5 linked regions of the Homo sapiens genome follow. The protein of the gene in region 4 interacts with the protein of the main gene of each other region in a pairwise test. Each region holds a gene or a part of one and is shown on either strand. Other genes may lie near its edges. The genes, in order: CLEC3B, CEBPZ, DNAJC13, RPS6KA6 and RBPJ.

What was found.
Region 1: the proteins of RPS6KA6 (region 4) and CLEC3B interact in a two-hybrid assay, tested with the Homo sapiens proteins (one large-scale study listed by BioGRID and IntAct).
Region 2: the proteins of RPS6KA6 (region 4) and CEBPZ interact in a two-hybrid assay, tested with the Homo sapiens proteins (one large-scale study listed by BioGRID and IntAct).
Region 3: the proteins of RPS6KA6 (region 4) and DNAJC13 interact in a two-hybrid assay, tested with the Homo sapiens proteins (one large-scale study listed by BioGRID and IntAct).
Region 5: the proteins of RPS6KA6 (region 4) and RBPJ interact in a two-hybrid assay, tested with the Homo sapiens proteins (one large-scale study listed by BioGRID and IntAct).

The regions. Positions count from the first base shown.
Region 1 is NC_000003.12:45,028,705-45,034,945, reverse strand, and holds part of CLEC3B (tetranectin), read right to left. Parts: intron 4,804-6,241; exon of another isoform or gene 4,709-4,803; intron 4,120-4,708; coding exon 4,021-4,119; intron 1-4,020. UniProt on the Homo sapiens protein: Tetranectin binds to plasminogen and to isolated kringle 4. May be involved in the packaging of molecules destined for exocytosis. Plays a role in retinal function.
Region 2 is NC_000002.12:37,216,243-37,222,839, forward strand, and holds part of CEBPZ (CCAAT/enhancer-binding protein zeta), read right to left. Parts: intron 6,322-6,597; coding exon 6,138-6,321; intron 4,232-6,137; coding exon 4,143-4,231; intron 796-4,142; coding exon 742-795; intron 177-741; coding exon 74-176; intron 1-73. UniProt on the Homo sapiens protein: Stimulates transcription from the HSP70 promoter.
Region 3 is NC_000003.12:132,454,231-132,460,827, forward strand, and holds part of DNAJC13 (dnaJ homolog subfamily C member 13), read left to right. Parts: intron 1-2,004; coding exon 2,005-2,171; intron 2,172-2,270; coding exon 2,271-2,350; intron 2,351-2,432; coding exon 2,433-2,602; intron 2,603-3,038; coding exon 3,039-3,138; intron 3,139-6,019; coding exon 6,020-6,127; intron 6,128-6,597.
Region 4 is NC_000023.11:84,102,779-84,109,375, forward strand, and holds part of RPS6KA6 (ribosomal protein S6 kinase alpha-6), read right to left. Parts: intron 4,948-6,597; coding exon 4,845-4,947; intron 4,263-4,844; coding exon 4,132-4,262; intron 3,710-4,131; coding exon 3,587-3,709; intron 3,099-3,586; coding exon 3,009-3,098; intron 1,880-3,008; coding exon 1,721-1,879; intron 1-1,720. UniProt on the Homo sapiens protein: Constitutively active serine/threonine-protein kinase that exhibits growth-factor-independent kinase activity and that may participate in p53/TP53-dependent cell growth arrest signaling and play an inhibitory role during embryogenesis.
Region 5 is NC_000004.12:26,420,555-26,427,151, reverse strand, and holds part of RBPJ (recombining binding protein suppressor of hairless), read right to left. Parts: coding exon 6,427-6,597; intron 2,811-6,426; coding exon 2,673-2,810; intron 2,522-2,672; coding exon 2,409-2,521; intron 1-2,408. UniProt on the Homo sapiens protein: Transcriptional regulator that plays a central role in Notch signaling, a signaling pathway involved in cell-cell communication that regulates a broad spectrum of cell-fate determinations.

The sequences.
Region 1 (6,241 bases), on a different chromosome or scaffold from region 4:
CAGCCTAGGCCACACTTCATGTACCCAGGGCCCCAAATCCCTACCCAAACAGCCCAAGCAAGCTTCCAGGGCCTGCCAAGTGCCTTTTGCAGGGTCAGTTCTCCTGAGGGCTGGTAGGGTGGGGCTGAGTGGATAGAGCTGAGACTGCAAGAGAGAAGACAGGAAGTGCTGGGCACAGGCTGTGGTCAGAGGCCGGCGATCAGGCAAGGGACTCTGAGGTGTCCACAAATTCTCAGTTTGAGCCTGGCCCCAAAGGTTGTGATGAAGGCACATATTTGGTCAAGTTAGGAGGATAAAATCTATTTTTGTTTTGCAGTTTGCATTTTCAGCTTGATTTCTAGCTGAAATATCTAGACATACTCTGATTTCTCCTGAGATCGTATAAATCGTTCACCTTTTACTAAAGATTTCTGTGGAAAGGAATATCTTGACAGACAGGTGTATGTCTGCATTTGTCCTCTTGCTGGTGACCCCACCACTTTGGGGGATGTCTGCACTCCCCTCTATCCATTCCCACTCAGTTACTTCCATTTCACTCAACAAATATCAATGGACAGCATCCCAGTGTCCCCATGGGCATCTGACACCACAACCGACTTTAAACATGGGGCCTGAAGCATTACAGAGGTGTCTACCCACAGACTCTGCCCCAAGTCAGCTGTCCTACCTCGTGCTATCCTACAGCTTAGCCAAGCGGCCTTCATTGCCTTTCCTTCCTGCTGGTAACACTGACGTGCTACCTAGACTTTTGTTGGGGATGAAGGATTCACTGCCCTGGCTGCCAGGAATGCTGCAGGAAGAAAGTCCTCAGCTTTCAGCCTCCTGCAGGGACTGCCTCAGCAGAAGACAGCCATCTCTTCCAAGGCCGTGCCCCTCCCTAGAGCAGCCTACACCCAAGACTGACCCATAAGCCCTCTTGCCCCGACTCAGGACAGTGCCGAAGGGTCATCCCGTCATCAGGGCTCCTGAAGTCAGCTGAGGCTTTCGTGGCACCACAGTACAGCTCGACTTCTCCTTCTGCCCACTCCTGCTTCCTTCCATCCCTTCCCTAGCACAGGGGTTGATCCTGAGGGTATCTCCTGATAAGTCTCCTGTGGGTTAAACTCCATCTCAGAGTTGCTTCCTAGGACCCTCACCTGAACCTCCCTCCAACACATAGGTAGTCCTCAGTCAATGCTACTTCTCGTGATACTATCATTGCTGCCAACATTTTGTTGCTCTGGTCTATTCATGATCCTGTCGATTTATGCTAGTCCTCCACACCTCTGCTCCTGCCCTGCCATCTGCTTGGAATCAACCCTCTTTATCTTCTCTGATTCCTACACAGCTTTCAAGGGCTCAAGTGATTCCATGAATATATTGAGGTTCCCAGGGAGCAGGGCCCTGGCTGCATCACCTCTGCCTCCTTGTGCCTGGCAGAGATGTACCAGGTGGGAACCTCCCATGTGTATGCTGGTTGGAGGAGGGAAAGGTTGCCCCCTGATTCCTTCAACTCTGGTTAGGTCAACAGAGCTCTGCAATGCTTTGGGTGGGTTTATTGAAAAGGTGATCTTTGGGTTGTGAGGACAATGAACAGGAGAAGGCCCCAAGAAGCCCAGCAGCTTCCTAGAAATCAGCAGACATGGGGGCTTTCATATGTCATGCTTTGGGCCTCCATATGTCATGAACTTTTTTCAGGGAGGTCCCCACCTCATTACCTCACCCCAGGTGGCAGTTGATGCCTGGGTTACATTGACTTTGCACAGCACAGAGCTTAGACATGAGAGAGACCTTAGAGTTTACCCTGCCTACCTTACAGATGAGGAAACTGAGGCTCAGAGTGGCACTGGGCTCATTCTAAACATACCCGCTGTGCCAGGCACTGTTGCCTCCAAATCCCTTCTCTCTTGTCCACCTCCACTATAGAGGCTGGAAAAGCTACATTCTTGCATTCTCAGATGTTCTTAAAGCTGCAGGTGGCCATATGATAGATTTCTTGTCAATGAGATGGAAGTGGAAGACTACGTTCCCTATAAATGAGACAGATGTGGTTGGGCTACTCTTCCTCCTTCTTGCCTTGAATGCACTCATGATGCCTGGAGTTGGGGCAGCCATCTGAAGACCATGAGGTGAAACTTCTGAACAAAAACTTATAACTACCTACTTGCAGACTTACTTTTTGTTTAAGCCACTGATAGGTTTCCTATTACATGAAGTCAAAAACACCTCTGGAGATGCTCCCTTTCTCGAGCACTCTCTTCCTACCTGCCATGCCAAGCAAGCTGTCCAAAGTTACATGTTTGTCCTTCCTTCAACAGAGATTGACTGAGTGTTGCTATGTGGCAGGCACTATGCTGGGCAGGGTAGTGGAAGAGACAAGGGCAATGAAAAGCAAACATGGCCCTTGTGTTCTCAGGGCTTACTATAGTCTAGTGGAGGCAGCAGACACAAATCAGGAAATGAGTGTATCATTACAGACTGCAGTCAGTGTGATAAAAGAAAGGACACTGTTCTGGGAGAGCTTATAACTGAGGAGCTGATTGAGATGAGGGATTAGTGACTCCTGAGAAGATAATGCTGGAGGCATTTATTAGGTGGATCTTGGGGGAGCAATTCAGGTTGCCCAAACAGCACATGCAAAGGCCCTGTGGTGGGAGTGCAGAAGGATGGCAGTGTGAATGCTGAAGGAAAGCATATGAATGGGAGGGAGTGTGTAAAACCATCCGGTGAGAAGGCTGTTGGGGGTTTCTGAGGAGGCAGGCGGGGAAGGGAAGGCCTTGCAGATGGATGGGCCTTGGTCACAAAAGCAACAGGTAAGAGAGTGGCTGTGGACACAGGGTGGTTTATAGATTTGCTGAGGAGTCAAGGTGATTTCCCAGCTGATAACTCGAGGGGCAGCATAGCAGAGCTAAGTGAGGCTCTGCTCCTTTCGGCTGTCACAAGGTCCTTCTCGGTGGAAAATAAGGGTGAGGATGTAGTAACAGGACCACTGCACGGGTGTGCTGTGAATGAGTTAACGTGCATCAAGCATCAAGAACAGTGCCAGAATGTAGTGGGCTCACATGTAAATAGTCATCAGTATTGTGAGTCTGCATCAAGCATCAAGAACAGTGCCAGAATGTAGTGGGCTCACATGTAAATAGTCATCAGTATTGTGAGTCTGTGTTCTCCATAGAATGGAAGGTGAGGTCATATAAAGGTAGGTAAATCGGAGGTATGTGGAAAATGCAGACTATATGACAGGAACATGGGGAGTGAGAAACAATAGGCTGCCAGGTATGCTGGCCAGAGGGCATGACCTTACCATGCGCCTGGGCCCTGTTCTTGGTGATTCTGTGCACCCTCCCTCAGCTGGCTAGTGCAGAGCCAGGAACACCAAGGCCCAGCTTGGCACTGGGCAGCCTGCCTCCATTCAACTCTTGCTCTTCCACGAGTCAACTAACCAACGAGGTGAGTATGAGCCAGGTTCAGGACCTGTCTATGCCTCAGTTGCTGCTGACACATCTTTAAAATGGAGCTGACATTTCATGGAGCTGACAGCTCATCTTTAAAATGGAGCTGACAAATCCCACCTCAGCAGAGTTACGATTAAGAGAGACAGGGTCAGCAAAGCTGCTGACACACAGGAGTGTGGAGCTCTCTGGGGCTGCAGAGGCCAGCTGAGTGAGGGGCTCCTGGGAGCTTTGCTAGGGTGGGCCACTACCTCTGCCCCATCGAGCGCTCCAGGGTCACTTCTGGTGGGCAGTAGTGGATTCTTGTTGGAGAATTTTTTGTCCTCTTGGGACATCCCCACTTCCACACCACCCAGCTGTGGCCAGAGATTTGGCCGTACACATCCAGGTGAGTTTTGCAGACACGTGTCAGGGGATCTCCCCAAGAGAAAGAGGTGGGGCTCCCTGAACCTGGTGCCTTCACCCATAGGCCTGGACTAATGGAGCCAGGACCCTGATGCTGAACGGAGGCGAGAAGAGCATTGCTGGCTGCTGGCCTGGGCCCTTCTCTCAGACGCTCCTGCCCAGAGAGGCTACTGCCTGCACTCACCCGTCTGCAGGGCCTGCTGCTCCTTCAGCAGGGCCACCTCCTGGGCCAGGGTGTCCAGACGGCTCTTGAGCTCCTCAAACATCTTTGTGTTCACAACATCTGAAGCAGGAGGAAATATGTCAGGGTGGGGCAGGGACTGAGCAGGAAGGATCCTACCTTAGCTGCAGAGGGATGAGAGGAAAAGACTCCCCTCAACCTTGATATCTTGGGAAACTTTCTCTCTCTCTATCCTTGCTGGTGGTAGTCTAATTAACCACTTGTGACTTCTGCCAGGGGGCCCATCCTTCACTTGCTCCTGTGCTGCATTTGTTTGGGATTGTTGCTGGGGATCAGATGGGGCTGGGATTAGCAGAGGCAGGGGTGAGGGTGTAGGCACAGGCTTCAGTGATCCCCCACCACCCAGCTACCTTTTCAGCTCCAGGGAAGAACAGCACAGGAAGCACAGCAGGAGCCCTCAAGAAGCCCCCAGGTTCACTTCCCCAGGCTGGAGGAATGCGACACAGACCAGCAGGCACTCCAGCCTGGGGCACGCATATGCAGGGCTTGGAGGTGCCACAGACACGGGTGGCCTGGGCGAGCTGCTCAGCCTCTCTGGATTTGGTTCCCTCATGTATGAAGTGGATGATGACAGCCCCACCTCCTAGGACTCTGGAGAAGACTAAGAGAACTGAAACGCAGAGCTGCCTACCTCAGTGCTTGGCTGAGTGTGTGCCCATCACAGCTACTAATAAGATGAGGGCAGAAGGAACCCAGGTTTTCCACTCTTACAGAGGAGGCCAGGCTCTGGGCTAAGCCGTTCTACATGTCACCCCATGTGATGCTCATAATCAACCCTATGACACAGGTAACGTGTCATTCTGTACCACCAGCATTTCACCATGAGGAAACCCAGGCTGCCCTAAACCAACTGGCCGAGGATGGCAGAGCCCCAGCTGGCAGGGCTGGCCTGGAACCCAGGTGCACATGGCTCTGAAGCCATGCTCTTCCCCACCTTCCCCATGGCACACAAACGGATTCCTAACAGGAGCTGTCCTGCTGGCAGCCAGTCATGTAAGAGTCAGCAGGGGAAGGCGGGGAAGCATATTTCTATGTGTGTGTAAGTTGAGGGTGCCGGGAAGCATATTTCTATGTGTGTGTAAGTTTAGAGCTCCTGGGGCGGACCCTGGTCTTTCTGAAACACCAGGGCTTCAGGAAAGGCTGCACTCAGCTTGGGGAAGTGGGTGGGGAAACACTTTAATGGTCCATTTGGCTGTGTCTGCATACATTCCACACTCACAAAGAGTGAGATCAGAGCCTTCGTCCACCCATAAGGTGCCTTTGCAGAAGAATCACAGGCAAGACACATGGTTGTGTATATAGAAATTAGCGATGTAACTTACCAAACTGGAGCAAAAACACCCTGATGAGCAAGGCAAAAAAAGGGAGAGTTTGGGGCTGGCAAACCAGCCTGAGGTCATGTGTGCCTCACACAGAGACTGCCTCCACCAGTTATAGCAGCACTGTACCCAGTCACGTGATGTACCAGCATAGGGTGCCATGTGAGGCTGTGCAAGGGGGCACTGAAGAAGGGCATTCTGCTGAGGGACACATGAAGGCCCATTTGTCTCCTAAGCCTTGCCCTGGCTAGAGTGGGTCAGACCAGAAAAAGAGATGCCTTTCTATAATTTGTCAGTTTAGAGGAGGTACCTTTTGTAATTTGCACCAAGGTGCCCATATGTGCAAAGTTTCCTCCAGGGACTGTCCAAGGTACAGGAAGCTACTCTCATTAGCTCCACCTGAGGAAGCTGTGGGAGTAGGTGTCTCTACGGCCCTGGGCAGAGTCAGGAGGCCTTTGTGCTGGCCCACTCTCTGAGCCTCAGGTTCCTTCTGCGTGATGTTAGAATGGATGCCCTCCAGGTTCCCCCAGTTCCCTGTTCTAAAGGCCTGTGACTCCTATGAGGCCATCCTTCCCTCCGGAGCTTCCCTGCCAGGTGTGACCATGTGGCCCCAAGAACAGATGAGCTCCCAGAAGTACTCTAGGCTCCCCGCTTCTCACCCACCCTGAGGGCCAGGACAAGGACTTAGCATATGCTGGCATTCCCTTCCTTTGCCAGTCCTGCCACTTGCTCTCCCCCTCTTGGCCCTGGCACCAACTGGTCTCCTCTGGCATGACCGTCCCTTCTTTGGACTTTCTCCCGTACTTTTGGGCACCAGCCCTGCAACTAGATTGCCCCTGAGATTC
Region 2 (6,597 bases), on a different chromosome or scaffold from region 4:
CCTAGTTATAAGCTCATATTGTTTATTATGTATTAAAAATGAAAGCCAAATAATTCACTAAATAGAAGCATACCTTTGCCTTTATGGGGCTTTGGATTTCGGTATACAAATCGATCCAAAAATCTCATTAGAGTGAAATCCTGCAGTGGGTCCCCTGAATACTGAATATAGTTTCCCTGAAAAGTGGAGCGGGGATTTAAAAACTTAATTCAAATTATGTCTATGAATCCAAGTAAGAAAAAGGAAGAAAAAGATAATTTCTATTACACTGTATTGAAGATACAAATATGCAATAAATGACTCTTCAAATATCTCTCTCATGCACATTATACTTAAAAAATTAAACACACAGATACATATACATACATATTCTAGGATGTAATGTTGATTTGATGGATAGACTAATATTAATAATGCAGGCCATCTAACCATTAATCAGGAACCAAACCCTGAAGTGGCAAACACAGCAAATGGGAAAGTGAGGCAGTATTTCTCCAGGAGAGGAGCTAGAAGGTAATAAATAAATAACTGCGTGGCTTTCAATGTCTTATTGCTTCCACTCATCTCAGAGTGGGAAAAGTTATCTGCTACTCTGTATGAAACAAGTCACTGCTTCTTTATACGAGCAGTAAAATGTACAAGATTCTCTCTGTTAGAGAAAACACTGTATGACCAATTATTGATTATCTAAAATGATACTTTTTTTCTTATTTCTCATCTTTGGATTTATTTTAGACTCACCTGAAGGATGGTCTTTGCAAAAAGGGCCACGGAGGGATGAAAATGCACAGATAACTAAAAAGAAAAATGTGAATAATATCAATATTTCTAAGGTCGACTCTTAGTACATTTATAGCTTATTTAAGAAAATCGGGCTGGGTGTGGTGGCTCACACCTGTAATTCCAGCACTTTGGGAGGCTCAGGCAGGCAGATTGCTTGAGCCCAGAAGTTGAGACTGGCCTGGGCAATATGGCGAAACCCCATGTCTACAAAAAGTACAAAAATAGTCAGGGTGTGATGGTGCGCGCGTGCCTGTACTCCCAGCTACTCAGGAGGCTAAAGTGGGAGGACTGCCTGGGCCCAGGAGGTCGAGGCTGCAGTGAGCTGACATGGCACCACTGCACTCCAGCCTGGGTGACAGAGTGAGACCCTATTTCAACAACAACAAAAATGAAAATGCAAAAATTTGAAATTTAAGCCAATACATTAAAAAAGTGATTCTCAAAACATATTGGTCTCAGGACCATTTCCTACACTTAAAAACCAAAAATTCCATCAGTTTCTATTCAACAGGTTTATATCTACAGACACCTATGTTATAAAAATAAACAGAAAAATTGTAAATACTTATAGGTCCATTAAAAATAACAATAAAGCGGCCAGGCGCGGTGGCTCATGCCTGTAATCCCAGCACCTTGGGAGGCTGAGGTGGGCGGATCACGAGGTCAGGAGATCGAGACCATCCTGGCTAACATGGTGAAACCCCATCTCTACTAAAAATACAAAAAATTAGCCGGGCGTGGTGGCGGGTGCCTGTAGTCCCAGCTACTCGGGAGGCTGAGGCAGGAGAATGGTGTGAACCTGGGAGGCGGAACTTGGAGTGAGCCGAGATCGCGCCACTGCACTCTGGCCTAGGCAACAGAGCAAGACTCTGTCTCAAAAAAAAAAAACAAAAAACAAAAACAAAAACCATAAAGCTACTACATACTAGTAAGTAGCATATTTATGAAAAATAATTATGCAGCCAGGCGAGGTGGCTCATGCCTGTAATCCCAGCATTTTGGGAGGCCGAGGCGGGCGGATCACGAGGTCAGGAGATCGAGACCATCCTGGCTAACACGGTGAAACCCCGTCTCTACTAAAAATACAAAAAATTAGCCAGGCGTGGCGGTGTGCGCCTGTAGTCTCAGCTACTCGGGAGGCTGAGGCAGGAGGATGGTGTGAACCCGGGAGGCGGAGCTTGCAGTGAGCTGAGATCGCACCACCGCACTCCAGCCTGGGCGACAGAGCAAGACTCTGCCTCAAAAAAAAAAAGAAAAAAGAAAAAAAGAAAAATAATTATGCTTCAGGACGAAATATATAGCGAGTAGTATTACTTTACAGTTTTGCAAATCTCTTTAATGTCTGGCTTAACAGAAGAGAGTGGATTATTTCATCTGCTTCTGTATTCCACGTTGAAACATACAATCTGGCCTCATGTGTAGAAAATAGTCTTTCACATAGCTGTGAATTTTCTTCTTTAGTACTATACCAAAACCAAAGATTAGTTGTAATATGGAATCTGAAACCCATATTCAATTGGCTTTTGGTACTTGCTACTTAAAATTATTTGGTCTACTTTGAATCAATCATTTATTCACTCAAGAATTTGTAACATTCAGGTGGCACAGTGGCTCATGCCTGTAATCCCAGCACTTTGGGAGGCTGAGGTAGGTGGATCACCTGAAGTCAGGAGTTCGAGACCAGCCTGGACAACATGGCAAAACACTGTCTGTGCTAAAAATAAAAAAATTAGCTGGGCATGGTGGCATGCTCCTGTAATCCCAGCTACTCAGGAGGTAGAGGTTGCAGTGAGCCGAGATCGCGCCACTGCATTCCAGTATGGGTGACAGAACCTTCTCGTTTCAAAAAAAAGAATTTGTAACATTGTGCATTGGTCATTGGAAAAATACCATATGCAGTCCTTCCAAACACTGGCACATTTCGTTATACTTTACCACAACAATCACATTGTTAGAACCACTGATTTCATCAGAAAAGTTTTACAAATTGAGAAACTGTCAAGCTCAAGGTGGTGGTTACAAGATTTTTAAAACTTTAATCTTTGCTCGAAAGCTTTATTTTTGAATTTTATTGCTGACAACAAATACTGCCAGCTTTTTTGTTTCATTCATTTTCAAGAAAATATCTCCCAAATACCTAAGCCTGAATAACCAGTTTGTCAGTCTTTCATGAAAGAGCAGCTAGATGAGCTTGCAACAACTGGTAAGCACTTGTCCTTGAGACACGTGACAACCTTCATGCTTTAGGTAGGCAGCACAGGTATGTTACGCATACTTGCTATGTATGCACACGAAATACTAAAAAGACATGTTACTTTAAGGTCAAGACACTAAAATCAGTAATTCTCCCTGTGTCATCATTCTTAAGTCATACTGGCTTTTTTTTTTTTAACTGCACATATGTGGCAGTGATGAATATAATGGCTTCTGATGCAGCTTGGTGCTGTCTTTATTCAGGATAAGCTGCAGCAGTTTTACCTATCATTTCTTTTATAGTATCAGTGCCACCGTCAACACAGTGATGAAAACAAATAATGTACTGGTATTACTATGGAAAGAGCTGTGACCTGGCCGACTCACTAAAAAGGTATCAGGAACTCTTAGTGGTCTGGCCGCACTTTGAGAATAGCTGCATAAGATACTTACTGGCTTTACACAAAAAGTCACAGAAAGGTTATTAAAAATATGAATTCCTCTTACAAATTCAGAAAAGTAACTTTACTTGCAAAAAATTTTATCATAAAACTTTTCAGAGGTATCTAATAAATAAAGCAAAATTTATCCATTTTCTCAACTCTATATGCAATAATCTACCTACAAAAAGCAACAGTCATAACCCATGCATGACATCCTTATTTTACGTGCACACTTAAGATTTTCTACAAAATGAACACTTCACATAGTATCTTCCCCCAAATGTGGACTTTTAATGTTTATTAATGCTTATAATTATCATAAAAAAACAAAAACTTCAAGGCATTACATCCTCAAGGGCAAAAATATACAGCATAGGCCGGGCGCAGTGGCTCATGCCTGTAATCCCAGCACTTTGGGAGGCTGAGGCAGGCGGATCACAAGGTCAGGAGATCAAGACCATCCTGGCCAACATGGTGAAACCCCGTCTCTACTAAAAATACAAAAATTAGCTGGGCGTGGTGGTGGGCGCCTGTAATCCCAGCTACTTGGGAGGCTGAGCCAGGAGAATGGCTTGAACCCGGAAGGCGGACGTTACAGTGAGCCACAATCATGCCACTGCACTCCAGCCTGGTGACAGAGGAAGACTCTGTCTCAAAAAAAAAAAAAATATATATATATATATATAGCATAAATGAATAAAAGACAATTTGAAATTATTTTACCTTTTTGAGTTCCCAAAGACTTGTATTTTCAGCTCCACAGAACAGAGGGTTTCTACTGAATGGATCGTATTTATTTAACTGTTTCCCACCTAGGAATAACAAAAAAAATACGATTTCTCAAATGCTTTCTTCCTAGCCCAAGAGGTCATTAAAAGCACCACCATTAATATTCTCAACAGATATCTCCAACATTCTTACTTAGCCAAGCAACCTAGATTAAAAACTCTGAGCTCCCTCAAGAATTTGTCTTGGTACTTAAGCTAGCATCTGCTCTTGAATAAAGCAGAGAACATGTTTATCCCAAACACCAAAAGCTTTCTTCAAGGCCAGGTGCAGTGGCTCACACCTGTAATCACAGCACTTAGGGAGGCTGAGGCGAGTGGATCATTTGAGTTCAGGAGTTCGAGACCAGCCTGGGCAAAATGGTGAAACCCCATCTCTTACAAAAAATACAACAAAAAAACTAGCCAGGTGTGGTGGTGTGTGCCTGTAGTCCCAGCTATTCGGGAGACTGAGGTGGGAGGATCACTTGAGCCCAGGAGATGGGAGTTGCAGTGAACCAAGATCGTGCCATTGTGATCCAGCCTTCCTGACAGAGCAAGACCCTGACTCAAAAATAAGTAAGTAAAAGCTCCCTTCAAAACTTCTCCTTTGGCTGGGCACAATGGCTCATGCCTATAATCCCAGCACTTTGGGAGGCCAAGGTGGAAAGGCTGCTTGAGACCAAGAGCTCGAGACCAGCCGGTGCACAGAGTGGGATTTCGTCTCTACAAAAAACACAACTAGCCATACCTGGTGGCACGAGCCTGTAGTCCCGGCTACCTGGGAGGCTGAGGTGGGAGGATCGCTTGAGTTCAGGAGTTTGAGGCTGCAGTGAGCCATAATGGCCCACTGTACTCCAGCCTGGCCTGGGTGACATAGTGAGACCCTGTCTCAAAAAAAACAAAAACCAAACCAAAAAACCCCAAACTTCTCCCTTTCCTAAATGGCAACAAAAGGTGCCCATTTTGGGGCCAAAGAGGTGGAAACGTTAAGATGGAAATAATCTGAAGATGAACTAGGTCTAAAGTCTTTTGGAGCTTTAGAGTGCTTCAAATATTTGTCATGAAAGTATGCCCAGAAATAATTCTCACTTGGAACAGGTCTGACATTATCTTCATGTTTTTAGAAACTCAGGATTAAAAAAATTTAAAACAAAGATTTTTCAGAACAAACTAGGAACTGACTACCTTCCAACACACAAGCTCTTCATCCTTCTAAAGGATTATTCTCAGTTTAGTCTTCAGGGGAACTGATGGATTCTTCTCAAACTTTTCTGGCAGCTATCAGACTTCTCTTTTGTACTTCACAAACTGAAATTTGTAGATGAATTAATTTGACTGTGAGTCCCAAAGCAAGCTGAAGAAATGGGTCTGGCACCACATTTCTCGAACCTCAAGGCTGGTGTTTTCTTCACAGCCTCAAATGAAGGGGCTGCATTTCTAAGATTTTTTTTTGACTCTAACATTCTATTAATAGACTTTTAATTTAGTTTGGTGTGTGTATAGAAAACCACTTAACGTTTCTATCTTGAACAGAAAGTTTTCTATCCCTAAAACATTACTTTAAGAAACTGTGGGCCAGGTACAGTGGCTCACGCCTGTAATCCCAGCACTTTGGGAGGCTGAGGCAGGCAGATCACCTGAGGTCAGGAGTTTGAGACCAGCCTGGCGAACATGGTGAAACTCCACCTCTACTAAAAATACAAAAATTAGCCAGGTGTGGTGGCACATGCCTGTAATCCCAGCTACTTGGGAGGTTGAGGCAGGAGAATCACTTGAACCTGGGAGGCGGAGGTTGCAGTGAGCCGAGATCACGCCTCTGCATTCCAGCCTGGGCAACAGAGTGAGACTCTGTCTAAATAAATAAATAAGTAAATAAAATGGTAGAATGCTATTTTCTATGAAAATCAAAGAGAAACAAACTCCCTAGAGAATAAAGATGAAAAAAACTCACCTTTCAAATTATCAAAGTGCACCCAGGAAGCAACCTCTGGTTTTTTGGTTTCTACATCAGTTTCAGGAACTGTTTCCTCTGTCTCAAGTTTTTTCACTATCTCTGTTTCTTTGTCTGCATCAGTGAATTTTTCCATGTCTTCATCATCATTTGCATCAATAAAATTTTCTTCATCATCAGACTCCTAACAAAAGTATAGTTTCATAAATCTACATAAATCAACTGGAAGTTGCAATAAAGTCTGTGCTCCATTATGTGATGCAGAGTTTTACTTATTGCAACTCTGGTGAAACGTGAAAGTTCTAATAAAGTAAAATGATGGCTATCAATGGTATTTAAACAAGAGAGGAGATTACATCCTTATTTCTAAACATAACACAGTTAAGTTTTGAGCTAAGAACCCCTGAGCCTTAAGGACTCTAATACTTGAAAACAATTAGCCCTCAAGTAAATTTCTGAC
Region 3 (6,597 bases), on a different chromosome or scaffold from region 4:
AGATATGTAGTCTAGAAATTTAAAATCATTTAATTTGGGAAAAGACATTTTCTTGCATATTTAAAATGACCCTCCCATTTTCAATTTTTTTTTTTTTTTTTTTTTTTTTGAGACAGAGTCTCACTGTGTCACTCAGGCTGGAGTGCTATGGCGTGATCTTGGCTCACTGCAACCTCCATCTCCCGGGTTCAAGCAATTCTCCTGCCGCAGCCTCACAAGTAGCTGGGATTACAGGTGTGCGCCACCACGCCCAGCTAATTTTTTTCTTTTTTTCTTTTTTTGTATTTTTAGTAGAGATGGGGTTTCGCCGTCTTGGCCAGGCTGGTCTCGAACTCCTGACCTCAAGTGATCCGCCTGCCTTGACCTCCCAAAGTGCTGGGATTATAGGCATGAGCCACCACACCTGGCCTATAACTAGTGTTTTTATAGTATTTCCAGTAGTATAGTATGACCAATAGCTGTTTCTTGCCTTACAAAGCTTTCAGTCTAAGGTCAACAAGACTGAAATGTTAAGCAATGGTTATGTTTTTTTCCTGTCCTGAATTCAATGGAAAAGAACACCTTAAAAAAAAAAAGTATGGATGTTCTAATCAGAGGAAGGATCTTAACACTCTGTTTGTGAGATGCTTTATGTACGTTATCTTGCTTTGTCCTGACAGTAGCCGTAGGAAGAAGGTCCTCTTATTCCCAATAACACTTACATGCAGAAAGTAAAGCAACTTCTTTGTGACTTGGGGTTAAGAAAAGATTTCCCAGATGTAATACCAAAAACAATCTAGAAAAGAAGAAAAAAAGGTTGTTAGTTAGACTTCATTAAAATTTAGAACTTTGACACCATTTAGAAAAAGAAAAGACAGATCGCAGGGAGAAAATCTTTGCAAAGCATATAGCTAATAAAGGTTTTCTATCCAGAATATATACAGAACTCTTACAACTCAATACTGAAAAAAACCAAGCGACCCAATAGTAAATGGGCAAAAGATTGAAATAGACACCTCACTGGAAAAATATGAATGTTAATACATGAAAAGATCATGAATCTTTAGGAAATGAAAATGCAAACTACTACATATTCACTAACATGACTAACATCAAAAAGACTGCCAGTGGCAGGTGTTGGCGAGGATATGGAGAAAAGAACTCTCATACATTGCTGGTAAGAAGGTAAAATGATAAAACCAGTTTGAAAAACAGTTTGATAATTTCTTAAAAGATTAAACACATACTTATATGGTCTAGCAGTTCCACTTTTAGGTATCTATCCAAGAGAGATGAAAAGATGCCCACAGAGAGACTTGCACATGAATGTTCGTAATATCATTACTCATAGCCAAAAACAGAAGCAATCCATATCTAGATCAGCCAGTGAATAAACAGACAAAATGTTGCCTGTTCATACAATGGAATACTACTCAGCAATAAAAAAGGACTGACCTAATACATGCAACAACTTGGATGAATCTCAAAAGCCTATGTATGATAAGTAAAATAAGCAAGACACCTAAGACTACATATTCTATAATTCTGTTTTTATGAAGTTTCTTTAAAAAGCAAAACTATAGAGATAGATCAGTGGTTTCCTGGGGCTGGGGAGTGTTCTTTTGCAAATGGGCACAAGGAAATTTTTTGGAGTGATGAAAATATATCAGAACTGATGATGATTATACAGTTGTATAAATTTATTAAAAATTATCAAACTGTACGTTTTAATTGGATGACTTGTGATTTGTCAATTAGAACCGAGTAAAGCTGTTAAAAATAATTTTAAAGGGAGAGAAAGAGAAATTAAAATTAGTGTTTAAGTAACTTGTACAAGGTCATGTAGCAGCACGGTGAAGAGCTAGTATTAGAGCTCTTCCTAAAGCCCCACTGTTTGTGTTTCCCATTGTAACTGTAGTGTGTCCCTGAGCAGATTACCTGCTAAAGGGCCTATGCTTCATGCTAGATCAAAATTCCCCTTAATCATCAATGCTAAAACCTTTTTTTACTTTTAATCTTACTTAGAGATTCCTTATTAGCAAGTTTGCTGGATGGAGTAAGAGCCTCTGGTAATAGAGATGTTTGTGTAAAAATGACACCAACCCATAAAGGTCAGCGATGGGGGTTACTCAGCATGCCTGTTGATGAGGAAGTAGAGAGCCTTCACCTCAGGTTCTTAGCTACGCCTCCAAGTAAGTATTGATTTAAATGTAATTACATTTCCACTCATCTACTTAATTTAAGAATTAGGAATTCGTATCTTCTTTTTGAACCTCTTAATCTCTTTACAGATGGCAACTTTGCAGATGCTGTATTCAGGTTCAATGCTAATATTTCATACAGTGGAGTCCTACATGCAGTAACACAAGATGTAAGCTAAGTTTTATCATAATTGTTCATTGTTACTAACTTTTGGTATGGAAACTTTTTTGAAATACTCTTTCTTCACCTAGGGTCTCTTCTCAGAAAACAAAGAAAAACTGATCAATAATGCCATAACAGCATTACTGTCCCAAGAAGGGGATGTCGTTGCTTCAAATGCGGAACTTGAGAGTCAGTTCCAGGCTGTGAGGAGGCTTGTGGCATCCAAAGCTGGTTTCCTGGCTTTCACTCAGCTTCCAAAGTAAGTTGTCTTCTGAAACTTAACTTCTCTTAGAGAATTTGAACTACTCAAAATGGCAAATAATGAACGATTCACCTCCTTTTCCTTGACTAAACCAGATACCTTTTATAGGGTGATATGGTACTTTATTCATGAGAAATGAAAAAGGAAGGTGAGGGCAGCAGAAGCGGAATATTGGTCCCATACTCACCAGTAATATAACTGACTCTTGAATTTGAATGGGAAATTACATGCCTTTTAGTTTTAGTTAACCCTAAAAAATATTTTCCCTCTCAAAGAAAAAACTATTATGAAGACTGATAAATTTCAGAGGTGGAATTTAAAATACGTCATTGTTCCAGTAGTGCAATGGAAAGTTAATATGATCTATTTCAATAATATAACAATTTAAAATGTTCTGGTATTGCTAGTATATGCTTGTTTTTTGTTCCAAAAGGTTTCGCGAGCGTCTAGGGGTGAAGGTAGTAAAAGCACTCAAAAGAAGCAACAACGGAATAATCCATGCAGCAGTTGATATGCTTTGTGCCCTTATGTGTGTAAGTAGTAGTTTTCTTAAGGAAACTGGTTTTTCTTAAGTTGACTGGTGGTTTTGATTTCCACAGTCCCAGATTTTCATTGTACCAATAAGTTCTTGTTTCTGTTTCATAAATTGTTCTCATAGTTACTCAAACCTTTGTTTAGCATATCCTAAATACCAGGCAATGTGCTGTGTGCCAGAAATTCAAAGATCTTAAGACAGAAGTTCTTTTCTTCCTCACTTTGTTGACAGTCTGGTAAGGTAGGCATATCTGTACAAGGTAAGGTAGTAGGGGCCATAGGATCTTGAAAAGCAGCACTTTATTTTTGTTTGGTGATGAGGGGAAGATGAAAGATTCTCACCCAGTCTTTCTGGAAGATGTTACATTTGATCTGAATCTTGAAGGACAGGCAGGAATTTTCTAGCTCTGGAAAGGCCTTCCTGGGTGGGGAATAGCATATAAAAAGGCATGTTTGGAAAGCAACAAATAATTAAATATGGTTGGGTTATAAGGTATGGATGGGGGGTAATTAGGAGTTGCAGCTAGAGATGTATGCAGACAGTAATAAAAAACCTTCTGTATCAGGAGGGAGGAGCTAGATTTTTATCTTTTTGTAAGGAACACCTGAAGGATTTTTTTTAGCAAGAGAGCAGTAATGTGATCAGGTTTGAGTTTTTAAAAACCCACACTGGTAGTATGTGGAGAATAGAAGTAAAATTAGAGGCAGGTAGACCAAATTGTCACGTAAGAAATGAGTTGCTGAGCTAGGGTAGTCACAGGGCTAAAGAAGCAGCACACCTGAAAGCTGTTTGCGCAGTAAAGATCTAACTTAGTGGCAGCTTGTACAGAGGGAGAAACAATTGTTTAGTACAGTTTTGAAGTTTCTGATTATCTCAGTTTTGTGTGTAGTACCTGGGACTTTTCCTTATATAAAGTGTTTTAGGCAAGCTTAGTCGTACATAAACATAAGTAAATACTTCTGTAAAACCTTGCATTCCCAAAAGCAAATTAATTTTATTTACTGTTCCAAACAAGTAGTGAGATAACTAGAACTTAACAATGATATGGAGAGTTGCTTTATTCGAACAAAAGATGTTCCTATTACCCAGGAAATTCTAATGGTAGAGAGCTTTGTGTCAGGCTCCCCTATCAGGAAATTGCAAAGTTCTTAGGAGCTCTGTGTCAGGAACCAGGGTAAAAGACTGTTGCAACAAAAGATTCTGCTAGTGCCCCTGTCTGCAAGGGTTTTAGGTGCTCTATGTCAGGAGCCAAGGATGGAGACCAATGTATATATTTTTTAATATTTCATGTATTCTCCCTGCTCAGAATTCTTTCCCTGCTTATTCATTAAGAGCTCAAGTCAGCTTTTAAATGAAGCTTACCAAATATACACACCTACTATGTACCCACAACAATTAAAATAAAATTTTAAAAATAAATGGAGCTTTCTTATTCCTGAAGGTGGTAGTGATGTATCCCTCCCTGAAGTGAGATTACCCTTCATAAATATTACACTTGTCTTTCTTAGCAATTTCTTCTTTGAATTATTGCTATTTCTAAACATGATGTATTTTTCTCAATCTGTCAGCTTCCTGAGGATAATATTCATGTTTAATTTTAATTTTTATCCTTAACAGGCCTTGTCAAGCTGTTTAATAAATAATGATTAATTTTTTTCTGTGTTTCAGGTACTATTCTATGAATTTTTCATATATTATTCAGTCTTCCAATGAACTTTAGAAGTTATTACTGTTATATCTATTTTGTAGAGAAGGACTTAAGGCCCAAGTAACTTGTTCAAGGTCATGTAGCTAGTAAATGGCAGAGGAGGCTTCAAGCCCACTTTCTGGCTCCAAAGTTTATACAATTAACCATAGTAACATACAGTATTTGCTAAATGAGCAGAAACAAAAAGGAAGGAAATTCTGACACGTTTTGCAACATGGATGAACCTTGAGAACATGATGCTAGTGAAAGAAGTCAGTCACAAAAGGATAAATATTGTATGATTTTAATTATATGAGGTCAAATTCACAGAAAGTAGAATGGTGGTTGCCAGGGGCTTGGGAGGAAGGCAGAATGGGGAATTATTGTTTAATGATTACAGAGTTTCAGTTTGGGAAAATGAAAAAAGTTCTAGCGATGGGTGGTGGTGATGGTTGCCCAACAATGTGAATGCTTAATGCCACTGAACAGTGTAATTTAAAATGGTTAAGATGGTAACTTTTGTTATATGTAGTTTACCACAATAAAAAAAAGTAAGAAACAATGCTATGAAACAAACATTGAGCCCTCATTACATATTAGGTGTTGGCTTTGTATCTTACATGAATTATCTCATCTAAGCATCATAGTAATGTTACATAAATACTATTACTCCTACTTTACAGCTGAGGAAAATGAAACTTAGAGACTTATGTAAAGTAACTTACCTTGCGTAACGTCTCCCAGTTATTGTCAGTAGTAAAATTAGGATTGGAGCTCTACTCCTAACCATCACGCTGGAATGTTTTATACACTCAAAAGAAAATCACCCTGAGACAAGTATTTGTTGTTAATTTTAGTACATTTAAATGCTAAGTTTTATTTCAAATTTTAGTTATAAAATTCTGGGTGGGCAAATGTTTGCCTTTTAATAAGATCTGTGACTTTTGAGAGAGTACCTTTTGTATATGTTGAGTTAATTGTTGGGCAAATTATCTGTGAAGTCTGATCAAAATCATGGTAAATCGTCACTTCTGCCTGCTTATCACGAGTTTCCTTTTTGCCTTACACTTTAAAGGCAATGGTTTTTAATTCTTTCAATGTGTAATGAATACTGTTTATAAATGACTTTTGCGTGATGCTAGCACATGGGACTGCTTATGAATTATCACTGTTTTTTTTTTTTCATCAATAGCCCATGCATGATGACTATGACTTAAGACAAGAACAGTTGAACAAAGCTTCTCTTCTCTCGTCAAAGAAGTTTCTGGAAAACTTACTGGAGAAATTTAATTCCCATGTGGTAAGTTATAATTAAATTTGTCTTCATGGTAGATACCATACCATTATTGAAAGATATTCTAGAAGTGCCACGTGGATGATTTTTTTTTTTTTTATTGTAGCCCCCAGCTTTGGTCAGTATTGGTCACAGTTCAGCTTGGTCACTGATAATAAAATATTTTGTCTTAGGACTATATCCATTCACCTGGGAAGGATAGATGTCAAAGCCTTTAGATTTTCACAGGGATACTCCAAATTTTTGTTTTTTCTTTCTTTAAAAATATCATTAGGAAATAAACTGCTCTAAAAAAAATTAAGCCAAATCTTTGTTCCTCAGTCCCTGATAACAATTTTGGAGATGGGCATTCTATAGCATCTTGAAGGAACATAAGCAGATTGCCAGAGTTTTGCAAATATTGTCAAATATTATTTTTTGCAAATATTAACCTTTGTTATACACATTTGAGAAGTCTTGGTTATACTCTTGAAATT
Region 4 (6,597 bases):
TAAGTGCAATCCCTATGGTACACAGTGGTGGTAAAGACATGTGGAAAAACCCTCAGACCTTCTGGCTTAGAGGACCAGAAAGGAGATGCTGGAAAACTCTGAATGCTGAGTGGAGGAATATTATAAAGGAAAGAGCCAGAACTGATCCTTGTATCAAAAATGTGTGGAACAGGATCAAAATAATTTGTATAAAGACAAATAATATGAACAAAAACCAGAGCTGCTGGCCCCAAAACTAGTTTTCAGTTCAAGCCCAGCCAAGAAAATTACCCACTTAAACAAATGAAACAATAATAACTATTGGAGAAAAATAATGAAATATGAAATTCTCTATAACTGATTATTATAATGCTTAGGATACAATCCCAAATTATCTGTTATACAAAGAACCAAGAAAATAGAACACAGTCTTAAGAAAATCAATAAATTCTGATTCCAAGATGAACCATGCTAAAACAGATAAGGATTTTAAAGTGACTATCATAATGATCCTCAACAAAGTAAAACAAAACATGCTTTCAATGCATTAAACTCTCAGCAAAAAAAGGGAAGTCTCAGCAGAAAAATAGAAACAATAAAGAAGAAACAAATAAAATGTAGGACTGGTAAAAAAAAATGCTGAAATTCCCCCATGTGATAAGTTCCCTACTAGTACTCTCTATTTCATGTAAGTTATCCTTATCTTTAATCAGAGTTTACTATGCTAAAGCTCTTTAAGGACAAGGACCAGGTCTCACTCATGTTTGAATCCACAACACTTTTTACAATGCCTGGCCTGTAGAAATGCTCAATATGTGTCTTATTAATTTAGTTAATTGAAGTAAGAACCTGAAGGTTCATACAATAATAAAGAAGAGACGCCTATGATGCTTTTCTCAAAAATTCTCTTCATGCTTTATTTTAGAGAGGGTTGGTAAAGACAATCAAATAATTAAATTATAAAAAGCTACTGTTTAGCATTATATATTAAAAAATACTGAAAACACACTTTATTAAACCACACACAAAATTGAGTACTATTTTTACTAATTATAAGAGGGGCTCATGCAGAGTTTTCATTATGTCAATTCTAAATTGCCATTTTAAATTTCTTTATTAAGTTGGTACATATCTACTATTACAACTGATTCAAACTTAAATTTTTAAATTACTCCCTACTTTGTTTTTTTATACAGTTATATATATTAAAAGTTCCCTTTTTTTGTAACTCAGTTCATTTGCCTTCTTTATGAAAGGACAGGAAGCAAAATAACAAGCCTGCCCCTTCACCACAAAATTTAATATAGTAATACTTGAAATGTTTAGAATACACATTTCTTACTGTATTTAGGGAAGGAGCTGGCAAGGTTCAAGATACATGTTAGGTAATCTGAACTTTATATGTTAGGTAACTTGAATAATAGTCACTGTATGTCTTTGGTTAATTCTTTTATGTTTGACTTTTAAGTCTAAGTTTCATAATTTCAAGGTCAAAGTTAGGTACATTTATATAATTCAAACCGCTTTTTAAATGAATATGCTATTAAATCAGGGCCAATTGGCAGAGAGAAAATAATTATTTCCTAAATCCATAAACTTCACTACATTGTGAGTTCTATTAGGATATTCTCTATAGAAATATATGTGAATAAAAGCAACTTATTTTAGGTGGCATCATCTCCTATATTTTCATGAAGATATAGGTCCCAGAATAGAAAGAAAAAAGTTAACTACAACTTACTCCTTGACAATGAAGATAGTCAACTGTCTTACTTATTACATATAGTATATCACTAGCCTCCCGTTCCGAGAAACATTTTTGTTTGAGAATACGGTCAAGTAACTCTCCTCCTTTCATTAAATCCGTAACAAGGTAAACATATCTACCATCATCAAAGACCTACAAAAGAACGCAGTTTTAAAATGTTATTATTTATAATTACAATTCTATAATTCTTAAATTAGATTTTAATTATATTTACCTTTCTACTAGACTTCCCTCTAGTATTAGAAACAAAAAAGACATTATTCCTTTACTCTTAATGCAGTACAGGCTGTACTAAAGGTTGAATTGGCTAAACAGTCACCTACACAGTCCCATGAAACCATGTTAAACATATAATTTTATTGCCTTTTGAAGTTATAGGTTGCAGTTCATCAAAGAAAGAAATTAAAAAATAGAACTCTGTGCCTCTCAAATGACCTCTATCTCAATTTTTTTACTGTATTATAGCTACTTCTCTTCCCCAAACGTAAGCTTCTTTCTGAAAGTAAATACATTATTTATTTTTTATACCCTTCCCTCAGTTCATTATCTGATTTGGTATCTTAAATACTGGTTGAATTCCAATAGTATACCAAGGAAAACAAATAAGAAAAGTATTTATACACTTTTCACTCAGGGCATGTATGATAAACACACACACACACACACCACAGTAGTTTAAAGATTACAAATCAAAGTGCATATCATTTTCTGACACAAATTGATCAAGGTGATAGTTGACTTTTCTGTCTTGTATAAAGAGAAAAGAACATTATCTCCTTATGTGAAAAGTGAGCATTCAGTAACATATTAATGAGTTATACATTCATTTTACAAAACTATAGACTAAGACTATTTCACTCCAGAAACAATCCATAATGCTATAGCCAATTACTATACAATCAAGAAAGTAAAATATTCAAGAATTTGGCAGATCCCCAGTCTCCTGTATCTTCTGTATTGATAGCACTACAGAATAATAATTGGTGTTAGCTACAATGTTAACTAGTTAACCAGCCAGAATATATTCATGTAATGAGGAAATTCTCATTTACCAATCATCATAGTTATTTTTGATATTCTATAAGACTAGAAGTATAGAATCATGGGAAAAAAAAGAATTAAAGTGGCAATTTAAGAGTCCTGAGATTTTTGAGGCATGAAAATAAATATGCTAAAGACATTAAAAGTTTCAATAAGAAAAATAAAGTTCCAATTCATAACTTCATTAGCTTAGCTGATACCTAGATTTAGAAATACCTACATCCTTCAAAGTAATAATGTTGGGATGTTGTCCATAGCGCATCAATATTTCAATCTCTTCTGAAGGGTCTCGCTTACTTTTGTCAATGATCTAAGAAATACGAAAAAAGAAAAATATCTGAGGCAAACAAATTATTTTGTCTAAAATGAGTATTTTCCATTTGGTTATATTTTTGAAGAAATGCTTAAAAACTCAAGAACAATACTTACCTCATATTATTTTAACATTTAAAAACATAAGTAAAAAACTTAACAGAAAAAAATAAAATTTTAACATTATATCCTATTTCACTGAAATTGTACCAATGATGACGTGATTGTAATTATCACAACTGCTCAATCTTAACATAATACATGTATAACAAAATTATTCAAATGCAAAAATTCATGAAATACACTGTTCCTACATAACAAAGGCTTGAAAAGAAATTCAAAAATGAAAATATTAAGTCTCAGAGTTCTTTCTCATCATCTTATCTTTCCTATCTTCATTTACTCCACTGAAAATGTTTGTCAGTTGACTCATAATTTAAATTACATGCATAAAACAAACAAGAAAGCTAGGCTCAGAGACAATACCTTCACTGCAAATTCCATGTTGGTAGTTGCATGTATGCATCGCTTGCAAACAGAGTAGGAGCCAACACCAATATCCTCCTTCAATTCATATACTTCACCAAATTGTGCAGCATTTCCATTTATCTGTTTATTTTTAAAAAGTAAAATACTAAGGAGAATGAAATATTTTCACATTTTCTGTCTTTTGTCCTAAATATACATTCATCTTAAGCCTTAAACTAGAATAATTCATTCTACAGAAGTTTTATCGACATTTATAAATGGCGTGAACCAATCCTTTCTTGATACCCACAGGCAACATAATAAAGCAACTAGCTTATACATCACCCTTCTATTTTATTCAAAAGAGGCCACATAAATATAATTAAAAGTTACCACTGTCTGCTCTTTTCCAAAACACACAGGGACATATTTAATTCATGATTTATACCAATAGATAAACAAAGAAGTTAAAAATCACTTTAAAAAAAACGATTAAAAATACATCAGCAATAACAGAGAAATAATTATCCCAAAACTGAATAATGTGATTAAGTGGAATTTACCTGAACAATTGGTAATACATTTGCACTTGTGATAGGAGTGATTTTATATTCTTCTGCAATAGAAGTTGCAACAAAGCTGAATCCTTTGAAGAGCTGATGAGCATTTGCACTGGCTGGCAAACCGGGAGAATCTAATGTCCAAATAATTACATTTAATTATAACTACACACAGAATTCTATGATATAAAGTGTCAGAATTTCTTTAACTATAAAGGAAACCATTAAATGCTACTAACATATTATATATTTGATTTATTATATATTATCTGTCTCCTCCCATCTGTATACATGCTCCATTTTAGTCAGTATTTTTTGTCTGTTCTTTTCACCACTGCATCCTCATTGCTTAGTACATAGTAGGTATTCAATATTTCTTGAGTGTATGTATGAAACTGTAAAAGACAGAGTAATATATCTCACGTCTTACCTCCTACCCCATCCTGTAAATCATTAGCATGCCAAAGGACTTATAAAACAAAGAAATAAACTTGCCACCCTTTGACCAAGTTCCTTCCTTCCTGATAAATATTTCCCATTTAAAACATCTACTTGACAGCTGCCCAAGCAATGTTTTGTATAGGATCCATATTTCCCATGGACAAATCAACTCTCTGCAAATTTACCATTCTTTTAGTTTTTACTTCACAAGAAAGTTTATTTTTAAACTATCTACTTAAATAAAATCTCTGATTTTACAGATAAACATGCATTACCTTTAGGTGTTTTTGCAGTAAATTCAGGATCAAAACAAAAAGTATCATCTGGTTTTCCAGAAGCAGGTTTGAAAGGAGGTTGAACTTCTCTTTTATATAATTTCTAGAAGGGACAACCAGATAACACAAAACGTATTAAGACTTTAAAAATTATTATACTTTGTAAAACAAAGCAGAACATAATATTCACAGTCCATAATAGAAGACTAACAATTTCATAGTTTCAGATAACTGTTAACCAAATTCTAAAATTTTGAGAGATAATGTTCAAGATGTAATGAGGCCAAGAAACATAGCAATGATGCCACAAGCTGAATTCACAAGGAATGCTCAATTTTGGATATCAGAAGTTTTTGAATGCTCATTGATAATATAACCATGCAAATACAGCACAGTAATAACTAAAATGCTCAAGGCTTTCAAAATCAATAATTATTTTTAAAAAGTGCATATTTCATCTAAAATATTGTTTTCACATAAAAAATATACGTTAAATGTACTGTTTAGGCTTGTATCAGATAATTGAAAATTTAGTCGTCTAACAATCTATCTTGCTAAAATCTATGCTTTTGAAAGGCATAGAAAATTTCTAATAATATATAAAAGCCACTTCTTTTGAAATCTATTTTTTAAAAAGCTTACAGTCCCACAGTGGGGAAAAATAAATAGGGAATTACTTTTGAGTAATTTTTATGTATTTAAATATGTAAACATGACTTTTAGTTCATTATGGCTTACTAGAAACAGCTAGTGGGCTAGTGGATGCCTCTCTCATGGTGAGGAATCAAAATAGCAATAAATATTGACACTTCAAGTAGATTTTCTAAGAGGCCACACTAGAATTCATCAGAGAAGTGATGGAATTGGGAATCACAGAAAGAAGAGAACAAAGCCATGCCGTCAGGTGAACTGAGACTGGTGTGGAGCCAGGAGATCTTCGATGCAGGGAAGGGAAGATTGAGTGAGAGACCCCCAGGATTCCACAATTCTGCCACAGACTTTCAATGCTAACCATAGGTAAACCCCCTTGAATCCCCTAGGCCTCCAGTTTAATACACGGAGCTGCCTGGAATCTGTGCAGAGGTACTGCTCAAGCCCATGTGGAATCCCATGGACTTTTGATCCCTGAGCAGCCTGGCGCCGGCTGCTGCCACCTCACTAGGCAGGGAGCAGGGAGGCTGGTACTTGTGCACACCTCAAAGACAGATACTGCAGCTGCAGTACAGAGGAGTGAGCAGAATGCACGCTGCAAAGACTGCCGGTCTCAGCTGTTCCCTTCTAAATGAGGCCTCCCTTCTTCAGTGTTGGGTCTACAGCACAGCTGCCCTGCCCTTACATGTATATACTGGCCACAGCCTGGTGTTCTTCTTAGAGCCCAGCCCCCAGAGGCTCGTGACCCGCTCTTCAGCTCCCTCAATAGCTGCGCCCAACACCACCATCACACTTGCCACTCCTGGGCCAAGGAGACAGTGGGGAAACTGGGCACCTTTGTGTGCCCACCAAAGTGAAATCCACTGCTGCTCCTTCAGGAGGGAAGTGCAGGTGGGCCAAGCACCCCATAGCTGCCAACCTTCATTGCTTCAGCTGAAGGGGTCTGCCTTCCCCAGTGAAAGGCCAGCAGCCCAGCGGCCCTGCTCCCAACTATTTCACCTGTTACCTGGAGGCCTTCTGAGAGCCTAGCCCCCCATAGGCCTGTGATGGGCCTTGGGACTTCGACCACATAAGCATTCTGCAGGCCATTCTGAGAGCCCAG
Region 5 (6,597 bases), on a different chromosome or scaffold from region 4:
CCCCTCACCACCTTAATACTATGATCCTGGGTCTAAGATAGCATCAACTCTTGCCTCAATTATGACAACAATCCAAGCACCTGTCTCTCTGCTTCCACGGCCGCATTGCTATGCTCTCTTCTCCACACAGCAGCCACACATATACTTCTAAACAAAAATAGGCCATCGTGCCCCGTTTAAAATCCTCCAGTGGCCTTCTAACATGCAGAGATAATATGAAGTCCTTACCCTAGATACAGAGAGGGATCCTACAAGGTCTTGCTTAGTGCTAACCTTACAGATTCAGTTCCTGCCACTTGACCTCTCCTCCCTCCGCTCCAGCTCCACTGGTTTCTTTACTAGTCATCATACATCCCCTGCCTTCAGTTCTGTACTTGTTCTGTTTGCCTGAAATGCTCCTCACTCAATTACCGGTTCTTTGACTTCATTCTGGGCTCTCTTCAAATACTGCGACTTCAAAAAGACTTCCCTGACCTCTCTAAGCGCTCCTCCAATTCTCTATCCCTTTATTATCTTGTTTTGTTTTTTCATCACTACATAAATCCTTTACATGGGTATTTGGCTTATCACTCTATCAAAATGTAAACTCAATGACGAGAGGCACTCGACTTTGCATGTCAGAATTCCTGTCATGAAACCCCTGGAAAGATTTATGTATCAGCGTCTTAATAATGGTACTGCAACTTTTTCTAATAAGTTAATTTTTCATTGCAACATTTTTATATAAAGCCATACAGTTTTGAGTGTAAAAACCTCAATTAATGACTTTCAAGCAAGGCAGGCTACTGGTACTTTACAAACAACTGTAAATGAAAACATTGTTTTAAATTTGGGTCTGTCTTCTAAGTGGTTTGTATTATAAACTATTGGTGATCAGAATCATCCTCCTAAGTTGTGCTTCTGCAGTACAAGCATTTAACACCAAAGCAAATGAACATCATCCTTGGAACAGAGGAAATGAATGAGAAGAGAAAAAAAATGAATAAATGCTGATTCAGATTTTTTGCTTGCTTCTGTCTCCTGCTCTGTTTTTCATGCCCTTCATTCCCTAACGTTACCCTTTTTATTATAATTTGTCTCAGCTGCAAAGCTTTACAGATTACTATTACTATACTTCATGTCTTCTAGCTTATTGCATTGACATGGGAAATAAAATCACCTTGTACAATCATGACAGAGGGTAAAAAAAAAAAACAGTAACAAAGAAATGAATCACTGGCTTAGAAAACTGTAGATCAAACCAGCCTCTGCTGAAATGACCCCAGAAAATATAAGCCAGTGGAATATTGCACCAAAAAGATAAATAGGAGGCATGTTTAGGAACATTAATACTAAATGTTCTTCTACTCACCCAACCTCTTCAGTCTGACCTTGAATCAAACTTACTCATAAATCCCCTTCATCTTGAATATAAGTAAATTATATTGTTTGAGAAAAGGAGAGGGAAAATTGGGAGGGTGGTGGCACTATAGAGGACTTTTGTTTTCATTTTACTAACAAAAGTAGTTTTTACAATTTCAAGATCTCCTTTTCTGTGGTTGTTGAGATAGGATCTCATTCTGTTGCCCAGGCTAAAGTCCAGTGGTACGATCACCGCTCATTGCAGCCTTGACCTCCCGAGCTCAAGTGATCCTCCCACTTAAGCTTGAGACTACAGGTGTGCACCACCATGCCTGGCTAATTTTTTTTTTGGGGGGGCGGGGTCAGTGGTAAAGACGGTCTGACCATGTTGCCAGGACTAGTCTCGAACTCCTGAGCTCAAGTGATGCCAGGGCTAGTCACTTCTCCTTCTCCTGCCTTCACCTGTTGAAGTGCTGGGATTGCAGGTGTGAGTCACCATGCGTGGCCGAGTTTCAATGTCTTCTATTGAACAAAAGCCCTAAATCCTATGCCCTGCTCCCAGTTAGAAATACCAATTTTATTTCAGTTTTAATAAATCTATCTTCTTGTGAGAGAGTAAGCTAACAAAAATTACGCTTATATTTCAAAAGAAATAAGAATGTCTTCTGTTTGCAAACTTGGTCCTACATTGGGATATGGCAGGTACCACAAAAAAATGAATACGGTTTATCCGCATTAGTAAAGAAAAGAAATGTAATTTATAGTGCCCTCTACTGAACATCTTCAGATAAACAGCCAAAAAGGAAATTGCCACCAAAATATATTGGAAATCATTTAAGAAAAAATCATTAAGAATGTACTTGTAAAAACTGGCTATTACCTTAAAGCATTTCTGAAATAAGGTAGAGCATAACTGTCAATTATAAACAGCACTGATTACTAACATACCTTTTAAAATTAAAAAGCATAAAACTGAGGTGTGTTTTTCCATTTGAATGTTGTGATTTTCCTGTTTAAGAAATTAATTTTTACTTCACATTATCACTAAAGCAAAAGTAGAGCCATACCAATCTTGGGAGTGCCATGCCAGTAACTGAGCACACAAGTTTGACTGTTTGTCCATAATGGATGTAGCCATCTCGGACTGTGAATTCTTCTCCTTCTGATTCATCATCATCCACTGCAGTAGGTGGAAAAATAAATCAAATTGTCATCTTTTTAAATTTATTTTATGATTAGGCAAATGACAAAACTTAATATATCCATGTATCTCATCAAAAGATTTTAACAATTTCACACTAAAAACATTAAATGCACACTTTTATACTCACAGAGATGAATAAAAAAGGCTCCCCACTGCTGTGAACTGGCATGAAAATTACCTCCTTCTACATGCAAGTATCTGGTACTAACTGTCTGGGATCGTAGTCGATTAAACAGAGCCACCTTTGTTCCTGAGGCAATGCATACTGCAAAGAAAAAACAGCTCTTATTTATGTGATTGGAGCAGAAGGTGGGGAGGGAGCAAAAGAAGGAAATTCTGCTTGGCAGTGTATAATTATTCTTTCTTATCATTTAACAGTTTGACAAATATTTTCACTTTCCAAGACAGTACAGATGATATCAAAAAGTCAAGGTAACTGTTATTAATAATGTCAAGCTAATGATATCAAATGTCCATAAAAATAATTTTAAAGTGAAAGCTACACAGTATGTTTAATGTGGTGCTGATTATTAGAGAAAAACTTACTTTTAAAATAATGTTAGACAGTAGAAATTTAAATGATGACCTATTGAAAGGATGTGTATCTAAACACACTGATAAGAAAATATTTTCCTGGAATATCACTGAATGGAAAAGCAGACTATAAAATACTCTGTATGCTGTGGTTCCATTAGGCAAATGTATATATTTTTAATATGTGTTTGCATCCAATTCCACAGAATACATGCATAGAAAAGGGACCAGAAGGATGTTTGTCAGAGTTGATGGTAAATGCCTCTGCATACTGTGATTTCAGAAAATTCTGCTTTCTTCTAAATAAAGTATTGTATGAAATTTCTTGAAAATAAATCCATGTAAGCAGAAAAACATTCTGAAAGTGAAATATGTTCTCTGCCATCAAGAAACTAATATTCAGTACAAACACAAAGTTAAAGCAGTTACATAAAACTGTGTAATCTGAAATGCAAATAGCCTGAATACAAGACATAATATACCTCCTAGTGCAAGAGAGCACACCACCACCTTTGAAGCAGGTCTTGCTTTTCAGAAAGAAAACAAGAACCAAAGGACAACAAACTTAAATCTGATCACCATTCTACACTAAAGATTCTCTCCTTGACCATACTTTTAAGCAGGCTGCTCTGAGCAATCAACTAGTATTTGTCCTTGAGCCCCGTCATCAGTCTGTTTAGCTCAGTTATATATAGTAAGAATCCTCCTAAACTATCTCCCACTCTGGATCTATGATCACCTTGGCCTGCCTTTAGCAGGAATCCTAAGTCAGGTCAGAAAGAAACCTTCTACCTTTGATGTCTCCTTTTAGAAAGTTTCCATCCATTGACCCTCTCACTCTGCTTCATCCCCAAGTGTCTTTGTTGTATTCTGAAATGGAACTTGGTTCTATTTTCCCCTATTGCAATAGTACTGAATGAAATCTGTCTTTCCAACTAGGCCCACGCTCTATTTCTTTTTGACTCTACCAATTTACAGAAAATACATTAAACTATACCAAATAAATGAAATCAGCAAAATCTAGTACGTGGAAATCTCTAGTGACTAAATGTTTCAACTTACTTAAATAAATTGCAAGAGTTGAGGGGGTGTCCATAGATTATACTCAAGGACATATCACAATATAAACTGTACTAAGTGGTAGATCTGAATTTTGATTCAAGCAATCTGATTTTTAAAATATTTTAGACCATTTTAAATTTGAACACTGATTGGATATGCATCAAACTAAAATAAGGGCAGAAGAAAGTGGGGCTGGAGTACAGGTATAGATGAAGATAAGATTGGTTGAATGTTAAGATCACTGTTGACGTTAGAGAATGAACATAAGAGGTTTCACTGTATGGTGCAACTCTGTCTACTTGAGAGTGTTTGAAATTTTTCCGTAATAAAAACTAAGTGATATTAGTGGACTGAGTGGACTAAAATATAACCAATACAAAACAACAACAATAACAACAACCACAACAAAAACCATGATCTCATAATAAAACAAAATGAAAAGAAAGCAAACAAAACAAAAACCCTAAAACCCCACTGGTCACTTTCAAGGAATGTTATTATTCTGCAAATGAGTAAACAAGCACCTAATCCTGCCTTTTCATTACATATTACAATTGAAGCAAATAGCTGATATGGCAAAGTCCCTCTTTGTAGAAAAAACTCCAGCTAACGAATGCAGAAGTTAGAATTTAAAAAATTAGAATATCACCATTTTGCAGCATTTAATGAAATGGATTTAAACATCATCAATGACTATTAAAACCATTAGGTTAAAGTTTGCTGAGGAACTTTATGGGTGGAATAGACTTACAACAGCTGAACTACTATAATCAATCTCAACATGACCAAAAAAAAAAAAGGGGATAATCAGATATTATGACTTCCAATCCAATGGAAATAAATGTATATCTTACCAATCAGTTCTGAAAGTCTTTATGTCTAACCACCAGTTCATGGAAAGTAAGAGAGACAGAGAAACATATAATCAGCCAAACCCAGAATATGGAATTCCACAACAGGAAAAATGATCCAGTTTCTTCAACAAATAAATGACATAGAAGGAAAACAAAGGTGAGAGAGGGTGAGAAGAAACTATTACAGACTAAAATGTGTGGACCTTATCTGAATCCATGTTTGAACAAACCACTGTAAAACAAAACAAAGCAAAAAAACTATAAAAAGACATTCTGGGTCAATCTGATAAATCTGTACATGAAATAGGATATTAGATGACACTTAAGAGCTGCTGTCAACTGTTACGTATAATGATGTTTCAAAAAAAAGGGCATGTATTAGTCACTATTGCAGAAATTTTGGTTGAAAGGATAGGATGAGATTTACATTAAAATACTCCAGCAATTAGAAGACGAAGAGGTGTTGGTGGTGATGGAGATAATGAAACAGAATTGATAAAACCTGTTGAGGCTGGGTGGCTAATTTCTCCCTTTTATATAAATTTGAAAGTCTCAGCCAGGCATGGTGGCTCACGCCTGCAATCCCAACACTTTGGGAGGTCGAGGTGGGTGGATCACCTGAGGTCAGGAGTTCAAGACCAGCCTGGCCAAATGGCGAAACCTCATCTCTACTAAAAAATACAAAATCAGCCGGGCGTGATGGTGGGCACCTGTAATCCCAGCTACTCAGGAGGCTGAGGCAGGGAGGATTGGTTGAACCCGGGAGGTGGAGGTTGCAGTGAGCTGAGATCCTGCCACTGCACTCCAGCCTGGGCGACAGAGTAAGAGTCCATCTCAAAAAAAAAAAGAAAAGTCTCCATAATAAAAAGTTAAAAAAAGAAAAATGGGTGTGGAGGTTAAATTTATAATTCAAACATACTTGTTTGGTAGTCTAAAAATAGGCTGATGAGACAGCAGTCTCTGCCAGAGCAACCACATTAAAAATTGTGTTTAGATTCTCAGGAAGGCCTGCCAAAGCCCATTTAGTTGGTAGCGTTTTTCAAAGGGGTACTTGTTGACATTGTGGGTAGATCAATTCTTTGTGGAATGGGAACTACCTTGGACACTGCAGGACATTCAATTCAGCACCACAGGCTCAAGACACCCAAAGCCAACATCACCCCCTCCAGTCACTGTAACAACAGAAGGAGAAAATCTCCCATTTCCCCAGAATGTCCCTGGGAGCATTAAGGAACCAACTCTGGTTAAGAACTGCTTCATTAGACCACATACTGTCGATTTACGATTAAAAAAAGAGAGACAATAAAGAGGGCCACAAAAATATTAGTAAAGAATTAATTGGCTATTGAAAAGGCAATTTTTAATTTAAAAAAGAGTCTGTCTTATTAATTCATGGTGGCAGTTGGGGATAAATAAGAAAAGCATACATACAGTCAGCATTTTTCAATGACTGCTTCTTTTTGGAAGGTTTGGAGATGACTTTTATCCGCTTGCTGAGGAACACACCAATGTCATCACTGTTGCCATAGAACATCTTTACAGACAACATGAAGTGCTTTCGCTTGTCTGAGTCAGATATATACAATGTTTTGGCTGTGCAAT